2 separate regions of the Homo sapiens genome follow, and region 2 is linked to region 1. Evidence: fine-mapped expression QTL. Tissue or cell type: pancreas. Region 1 holds a variant in brackets; the other region holds the start of a gene. All regions are shown on one strand. Distances are from middle to middle.

Region 1 (4,705 bases):
TTTAAAAAATTCAAATATCAACCATTAATAAATAAGATTAGAAAGAGAGGGCCGGGCGCGGTGGCTCACGCCTGTAATCCCAGCACTTTGGGAGGCCAAGGCGGGCGGATCACGAGGTCAGGAGATCGAGACCATGGTGAAACCCCATCTCTACTAAAAATATAAAAAATTTGCTGGGCGCAGTGGCGGGCGCCTGTAGTCCCAGCTACTTGGGAGGCTGAGGCAGGAGAATGGCATGAACCTGGAAGGTGGAGCTTGCAGTGAGCCGAGATCACGCCACTGCACTCCAGCCTGGGCGACAGAGTAAGACTCCATCTCAAAAAAAAAAAAAAAAAAAAAAAAAAAAAAGAAAGAGAATTTGGGGTTGGGAGACAGTAAGAATTGCAAGTAAAAAAGCAGAATGAACCGTGTTTAGAAAAAACGTAATTTTTTCCACAAGAATCAACGAAAAATACTGCAATAACATCCTTTCTGTGATTGTGAATTTCCAGGTTCATTTTTCTTATTAATCTAAAGAAAAAGTATACATATGCATTATTATTATTGTACATCAGACAATAAAGAAAAGCAAAAAGAATATAAGGAATTCTTATAATCCCAACCACCCACACATTAACATCTCGGCATACCTCCTTCGAGATCTTTTTCTTTTTTTTTTGAGACGGAGTTTCACTCTGTCACCCAGGCTGGAGTGCAGTGGCACGATCTGGGCTCACTGCAACCTCCACCCTCCAGATTCAAATGATTCTCCTTCCTCATTCTCCTGAGTAGCTGGGACTACAGGCGCCTGCCACTGCGCCCGGCTAATTTTTTGTATTTTTAGTAGAGATGGGTTTCACCATCTTGGCCAGGCTGGTCTTGAACTCCTGACCTCATGATCCACCCACCTCGGCCTCCCAAAGTGCTGGGATTACAGGCGTGAGCCACTGCACCCGGCCGAGATCTTTTTCTATTAAATTGCTCATTTTTATTCTTTTTTTTTTTTTGAGATGGAGTCTCATTCTGTCGCCTAGTCTAGAGTGCAGTGGTGCAATCTTGACTCACTGCAACTTCTGCCTCCCAGGTTCAAGTGATTCTTCTGCCTCAGCCTCCCCAGTAGCTGGGATTACAGGCCCATGCCACCACACCCACCTAATTTTTTTTGAATTTTTTGGTAGAGATGGGGTTTCACCATGTTGGCCAGGCTGGTCTCGAACTCCTGACCTCAGGTGATCTGCACCCCTTGGCCTCCCAAAGTGCTGGGATTACAGGCCTGAGCCACTGCACCTGGCCTCATTTTTATTCTTATTTAACTCAATAAGCATTCATTGGATATCTACAAAGTTAGGCCAGGCCTTCTGAGGAACGCAGTATGTACAAAGTTCCTGCCCTCAAAGAGCTTAGAAACTACTTGAGGACATAATAAAAATCATGATGATCACTGCTTACACTTACATAACACTTATTATGCACCAATAATTGTTCTGTTTTACATGTATTCACTTATTTAATTTTCACATACATCCACAAAGTAGTTGTAAAAATATTATTCCTTTTTATAGATAACTTGGCTGGGCACAGGGGGACAAATGGGTTGGACCACTATATACACATACAAAGTTCTGTTCAAATCTATCCCATAATTTTATCCAAAAAGTTATAGAATCATTTTGTTTCTGAATTTAGATAAAATGATATTCATGATATAAACTATTAAGAAGTTTAAGTTCCAAAGAAAACTTAAACTTGATACTTGGCACATCATTAAAAACACAATTACTCTACTTTGTTAGGGTCTTTGTTACGGACTTTGAAGAATATAAAGAAGCTAGTTCCACGTTGAAGAGGAGTGGTAAGAGTGGGCATCCTTGTCTTGTTCCAGTTCTCAGAGGGAATGCTTTCAACTTTTCCCCATTCAGTATTATGTTGGCTGAGGGTCTGTCA[T/C]AGACGGCTTTTATTAAATTAAGGTATGTCCTTTGTATGCCGATTTTGCCAAGGGTTTTAATCATAAAGCGATGCTGAATTTTGTCAAATGCTCTTTCTGCATCTATTGAGATGATCATGCCATTATTTATTTATTTATTTATTTGGAGTCTCACTCTGTCGCCCAGGCTGGAGTGCAGTGGCACGATCTCGGCTCACTGCAAGCTCCGCCTCGCGGGTTCACGCCATTCTCCCGCCTCAGCGTCCCAAGTAGCTGAGACTACAGGCACCAGCCACCACGCCCAGCTAATTTTGTTTTTGTATTTTTAGTAGAGACGGGGTTTCACCGTGTTAGCCAGGATGGTCTCGGCTAGTCTCAATCTCCTGACTTCGTGATCCGCCCGCCCTGACCTCCCAAATTGCTGGGATTACAGGGGTGAGCCACTGCGCCTGGCCGATCATGTGATTTTTGTTTTTAATTCTGTTTACATAGTGTATCACATTTATTGACTTTTGTATGTTAAACCATCCCCACATCCCTGGTATGAAACCCACTTGATCATGGTGGATTATCTTTTTGATACGTCATTAGATTCAGTTAGCTAGTATTTTGTTAGGGATTTTAGCATCTATGTTCATCAAGGATATTGGTCTTTAGTTTTCTTTTTTGGTTGTGTCCTTTCCTGGTTTTGGTATTAGGGTAATGCTGGCTTCATATGGAAAAAAAAAAAAAAAGTTGAGTTGACACAATCCTCTACTTTGAGTCAAGGATGCCTCCTAGGGACATTAAGGAATGAAGATGACTTTCCTTCACACTAAATGGCCTCAGCCTGCTGTGGTCTTGGTTTCTTTGCCTTTTTTTTTTTTTTTTTTTAATGGCTTTTCTGCTGCTGTCCTCATTTTAAAACCTGTTAGAAGGCTACGAAAAAAATCCTCTCTCCTTGTAGTATAAGGTCTCTAGGCTGCAATGGTTTGAAACCAGATAACCAGGATGGCTAGGACTTTTGCAAAGTGGAAATATTATCTGATAGATGGTCCAATGACCTCTACTTTAGAAAAAAAGTGTATATGGTAAAATATATAAATTTGAAATAACTACTGGTCTACTTAGGGGAAGCAGAGCGGAGCACTGGAGAACACAGACTTTGGACCCAGAAGGCATGTATCCAAATTGTGTTTCTGCTTATTAGCTGTGGGATTGCGAGCCAGTTACTAACTCTTTATCTCTCGGTTTCCTCATCAGTAAAAATAATAACAATGGTAATATAGTTTGGATGTTTGTTCCCTCCAAATCTCATGTTGAAATTTGATCACCAATGTTGGAAGTGAGGCCTAGTAGAAGGTGTTTGGGTTATGGGGCTGGATCCCTCATGAATGGCTTGGTGCCCTCCCCAGGGTAATGAGTGAGTTCTTGCTCTATTAGTTCTCATGAGAGCTAGCTGTTTAAAAGAGACTGGCATTTCCTCCCCTCTCTCTCTTGCTCCCTCTCTCGCCATGTGACATGCCTGCTCCCCCTTCACCTTCCACCATGACTGTAAGCTTCCTGAGGCCCTCACTAGAAGTAGATGCCAGCACTAATGCTTCTTGTACTGTCTGCAGAACCATAAGCCAAAATAAACCTCTTTTCTTTATAAATTAGTCTCAGGTATGCTTTTATAACATCATAAAATGGACTAATACAAATAGTATTAGTATAGCATCAACCTAATAAAGTTATGAAGATTAAATAAGTTAATATTTACATAGTGCTTTGAATAGTGCTGGGAACAGACTAAGGGCTATATAGGTGCTTGATAAATTGATGCGACCAACAAAAAAGATATTCCCACTGACTGTGTTCCAAGAGTTGTGGGAACTCTTGTGGGAAGCAGGAATTCCTGATAAGTAAGGTATTATGGACTGAATGTTTGTGTCCCCCCAAAATTCCTATGTTGAAATCCTCACCCGCAAGGTGATGGTATTGGGAGGTGGGGCCTTTGGGAGGTGACTATGGCATAAGGGCAGAGCCTTCATGAATGGGATTAGTCCCTATGATAAGAAGAGATACAAGAGAGCTTGCTTCTCCTCTTCCTTGTTGTCAGATGAGGATATGGCAAGAAGACTGCCATCTATAAAGCAGGAAAAGAGCCTTCACCAAGAACCCAACCATACTGGCAGCCTGTTCTCAGACTTCCAGACTTCAGAACTGTGAGAAATGAGTATTTGTTGTTTAAGCCACCCAGTCCATTGTAGTTTTGTTATAGCAGCCTGAACTGACTAAGACATAGGAGGATTATACATTCTAACTTAAAATGTCCCCAACGCATTAGTCCTAGCTGCTTGGGAGGCTGAGGTTGGGGGGATCACTTGAGCTCAGGAGCTTGAGGCCAGCCTGGGCAACATAGCCAGACACTGTCTCTAAAAAATAAAAGTCCCCAAAATACATATGCCCTTGATTTGCCAATTCCACTCCTGGGACTCATTTCCATAGGAAAAAAGTTATCAGTACATGAGAACACATGATGTACAAGGATGTTTATCACAATATTGTTCATAGTGGTAAAGAACTGGGAAAAAAGTGAATATGCAGAGGGGCTATTACACAGACACCGGCTGGGCGCGGCGGCTCACGCCTGTAATCCCAGCACTTTGGGAGGCCGAGGTGGGTGGATCACTTGAGGTCAGGAGGTCAAGACCAGCCTGGCCAACATGGTGAAACCCTGTCTCTATCAAAAATACAAAAAAATTAGCCAGGCATGGTGGCGCACACCTCTAATTCCAGCTACTCGGGAGGCTGAGGCACAAGAATCACTTGAACCCAGGA
Region 2 (4,332 bases), 70 kb after region 1:
AACAACAACAAACAGAGCTTGCAACAACAACAACAAACAGAGCTTGTGAGATAGAAGGGTAAGTAAAAGAATTGTGGTAAATTGGAGCAAAATGACCCTTCAAGTTATTTCAACCCAGGAGGTCTCCTGTCCCATCACAACACTCCCTGTCAGTTTCACTCAAAGGTCTAGAAACTAAATTGTGCGGACTAAAAGGCCTGTGTTTAAGACAAGAATCTAATATGCTTTTCCTCCACTTAAAACCTTCAGATATTCCTTCAGCAGGAAAGTATGGGAAACAACCACATAGAAACAATTTTAAACGTTTAACAATTAAAATTAAAAACAAAAAAAAAAACCTTCAGATAGCTCTCTGGTCTATAGAAGTAAAAATTTCCTAAAATGATATTTACAATGTGACCCCAGTTTAGGGGTTCAGTCTTCTATTCAGCCACAAACATCACTTTAAACGTATACTGCATGTGACCACTGAGCTACACGTACTTTTTTTTCATATCCTAGCACCTCTGAATATGCTTCTTTTACAAAGACCTACATTTGCCCCCTTGAGCACCTGGTCAACAACTACTTACTCCTCAAAGAGCCTCAGGTAGGCTGGAGACACACAGATGCAGGTTGGCAATTTGGTTCTTGTATTTATTAGCTTCCGAACTTTCAGCAAGTTCCTTAACCTCTTTTAGTCTCAGTGTTATATATGAAAAAAGGATAACAGTACCCATCTCATAGGATTTTTCTTGTTCTGAAGATTAAATAAGCTAATAATATATATTCAACGCCTTTAGAACAATGGCAGTCACATAGTAGGTACTCAATGTTTGGAGTACGAATAATGTACTCTTATTATTCAAAGACCAGCTAGAAAGTTACCTTCTTTGAGGGGTCTTCCTGATAGTTACAGTGACAAGGAGACTTAATCGCCCCCAAACACTTACCACTTTACACTGCTTGGTTGTCTCCATTACACAACTAATTCCCCGAGGGGAAGGATCTTGAATAACTGATCTTTGTTGTAGGCGGCTAGCACAGTACCCAGATCATAGAGGGAACTCAGAATCTGATGCTGGCACTTGTAATCAGAAAGTCTGGGCTGAGATCCCAGTATCTTCACTGACTGGCTTTGTGATCTCAGGCTGGTCACTTAGCATTTCGAACGCCGCGCTACCTACCCCGCCCACCCCAGGAGCGAACAGTGTTGCTGCCCCAAAGCGCCGAATAGATCGCAGAACGTAGTGGGAAAGTAAGGGACTATTATGATCTGTACCCCACCCCGACGCACGCCAAGCGGCTTTTTCCCCATTTGTGGCCAAATTTCCCGGCATGGGGAAGGAGCCTTAGGGGAAGCACCCGGGACCTCCTTGGCTTCTTCTGGGAGTCTAGTTTCACCTATTTCGTTTCGCCAACAGGCGAGACGGGCAAGACTTCGGGCTCAGCTGCCACCATCAGTACTGACCTGTCCATGGCTAAAGCCTTTTCCACACACAACCAAAGTTGGCTGCAGTTTAGCTACCGCGTTTTAGCCTTCCCGCTCTCCGGAAGCAAGCCCTTCGACCCGGAAGCAGTCTGTCCCTAAAACAGACCCACAGAAAAGGGGTAGGGGAGAAGAAACAACGTTCCCATCTAGCGCATGCGCGACTTCAGCCTACAGGTGCACGCCCGGTGGGCGCAGGCGCAAAAGTTTGCCAATGTGTTCCTGGTTGCGTTTAGCCCAGACGCCCTGCGGCCGCTTTGCCTGACCAAAGTCTGTGGGCGTGGAACAGGCCCTGGGTTCTCCTACTGGGAAGAATGAAGTATGTTGATAGTCTGGAAAAATGTGAAGTCATTTCCTGGTATTCTCTGTCAGAAAGCGCCTGTTCTTGGAATTCAGATGCGTGGGCTCTGCCCCACACCTCGGGGATCTCTATCTCTCTGCCTACACTCAGTCCTTTGTTCTGTAGCCCCCTGCAGTTTTTGCAACTATTTTCCATAACTGCTATTTGTTCTTTACTTGGTGTTCTTTCCTATTAAGGAGAAAAAGTTCACCTGTATTAAAAAGTAGAAAGGCAAGCGTGAAATATGATGGTATTGCCCTCTATTTCAAAGTGCCGTCTAGGCAAAAAGTGGTGTATTTTGGTCTTGAAGGAGTCAGTCACATTTTTGTTTTGGTTTTTGTTTTTTCCAGTTTGAAAGTAGTGACTGGCTATTAACTGACCAGATTACAAAAATAATGTTAGATGCTTCAGTTTATCCGTTTAATAAGCCTGTTGATATAGTCTTTTCTGTTGCTGGCATTTATACCTTTTATTAATACAAAATAGGTAGTCCTTCATTCTCCCTCGTGGAGAAGATAATTTGAAGGATCACAGGAACTTGAGTTTTTCAACAGCATAGATCTCATGAATCAGATTCTCCAGTCAGATGATGCCATATTTATCAGGAAATCTAGCAATCAAAGCGTTATCTGTTAAGGTAATTTGTTTATTGATTTTGCCATAACCAATTTGTAGATCAGTTCATTTACTGATTTCAGGTTCAGGTACTCCATGTGATATATGGTTCCACAATCCTCAGCGTGTTAACTGAAGCCTTGTTGAGTTTAACAAAGCTGCCATTGAAGATCTGGGGAAAGTGAAGAAGTTGCAACAGAGTTTTGGGCTCACACCATTGATACATTTGATCCTTAAGGCAAGTGACAATTTGGGTTTCACAGGTATATAGAAATTGCCAGCTTTTCTTGCCATATATTTCTTGTGACAGTGCTGAGCTTTTTTTTTTTACTTCTTGCTTGCTTTTTTTTGGACTTGATTTTTTAAATTATGTTTCCTTCCTTCCTTCTTTCTTTGTTTTTTTTTTTTTTGAGACAGGATCTTGTCCTATTGTCCCGGCTTACGTGCAGTGGCACAGTCACGGCTCACTGCAGCCTTGACCTCCTGGGCTCCAGCAATCCTCCTACCTCAGCCTCCCTAGTACCTGAGGTTGCTGGGACCACAGGCACGCACCACCATGCCTGACCTCCTCTCCTCCCCCGTTTTTTAAAAATATTTTGGAGAAATGGGGTCTTATGTTGTTGCCCAGGCTGGTCTCAAACTCTTGGGCTCAAGCCATCCTCTTACCTGGGTCTCCCAAAGTGCTGGGATTACAGGGGTTAGCCACCACATCTGACAGTGCCTAGCTTTTTCATAGATGTAGCTTTCTCCTTGCTTTTCTTTTTCTTTTTTTTCGAGATGGAGTCTCATTCCATTGCCCAGGCTGGAGTGCAGTGGTGCCATCTCGGCTCACTGCAACCTCTGCCTCCTGGGTTCAAGCGATTCTCCTGCCTCAGCCTCCTGAGTAGCTGGGATTACAGGTGTCTGCCACCACACCCGGCTAATTTTTGCGTTTTTGGTAGAGATGGGGTTTCACCATGTTGTCCAGGCTGGTCTTGAACTCCTGACCTCAGGTGATTCACCTGCCTCAGCCTCCCAAAGTGCTGGGATTACAGGCGTGAGCCACTGCGCCTGGCCTTCTCCTTTCTTTTCAAAGCATTTTATGGGCAAACTTCTTTCTCAGGCACTTGACCTTTAGCTCTGTGAAATTCCTTCATGTGTTTTATTTTTATTTTTTGAGACAGAGTCTTGCCCTTTTGCCCAGGCTGGAGTGCAGTGATGCAATCTTGGCTCACTGAAACCTCTGCCTCCCCGGTTCAAGCGATTCTTGTACATCAGCCTCCCAAGTAGCTGGGATTACAGGCGTGCACCACCATGCCCAGCTAATTTTTGTATTTTTAGTAGAGGCGGGGTTTCACCATGCTGGCCAGGCTGGTCTCGAACTCCTGACCTCATGATCCACCCGCCTCGGCCTCCCAAAGTGCTGGGATTACAGGCATGAACCACAGTGCCCAGCCTTCCCTCACATTTTTAAAGGGTTTCTGGCACAGCAGGAATCTTCTTTTTCTTGTCTTCAATACCCTCCATGGTTTCAGCTGGGAAAGAGGAAATCAGTGGAAGTTTTGCCTTAGGCATTTATGTTCTGCTGTAATTCTGGGAAGCATAGTTCCCCGGAAGGCCTCTTCATACCTTATTATCCCCTCTCAGACAACATGGCATTTTGATAAAAACATTGCTTTGGGCTCCATCTAGGTTCAACCCCCCTGCACCTGCAGATTCCTCATCTGTAGAGTGGAGAAAACAATACCTTTGTCAGGGGGTGTTGTGAGGATTAAACAAGATGTCATAGGGAGTCCCTGTCTCTAACATAAGTTTTAAAAATTAGCCACGTGTGGTGACACGTGCCTGTGGTCCCAGCTACTTGGGAGGCTGAGGCAGGAGGATCACTTGATCCTGGCAGGCCGAGGCTGCAATGAGCTATGATCATGCC

What was found. PIP is the estimated chance that this variant, and not a neighbour inherited with it, causes the effect.
Region 2: it holds the start of NUP107, and the variant in region 1 is fine-mapped to the expression of NUP107 in pancreas (GTEx, PIP above 0.99).

Annotation. Positions count from the first base shown.
Region 1 is chr12:68,754,373-68,759,077 of GRCh38, reverse strand. The region is part of intron 3 of SLC35E3 (solute carrier family 35 member E3); the gene reads right to left. Among named protein-coding and RNA genes, the nearest start is that of SLC35E3, 11 kb to the right of the region's middle. The variant T/C (reference allele first, on the strand shown) is at 1,924.
Region 2 is chr12:68,684,192-68,688,523 of GRCh38, reverse strand. It overlaps NUP107 (nucleoporin 107), which reads right to left and starts at 1,546. Exons shown (of 28, transcript NM_020401.4): 1 at 1,451-1,546. The coding sequence starts at 1,458. LOC100507250 (a long non-coding RNA gene) reads left to right here and starts at 1,665. Exons shown (of 3, transcript NR_038930.1): 1 at 1,665-1,787; 2 at 2,507-2,661. It also overlaps the pseudogene RPL7P42.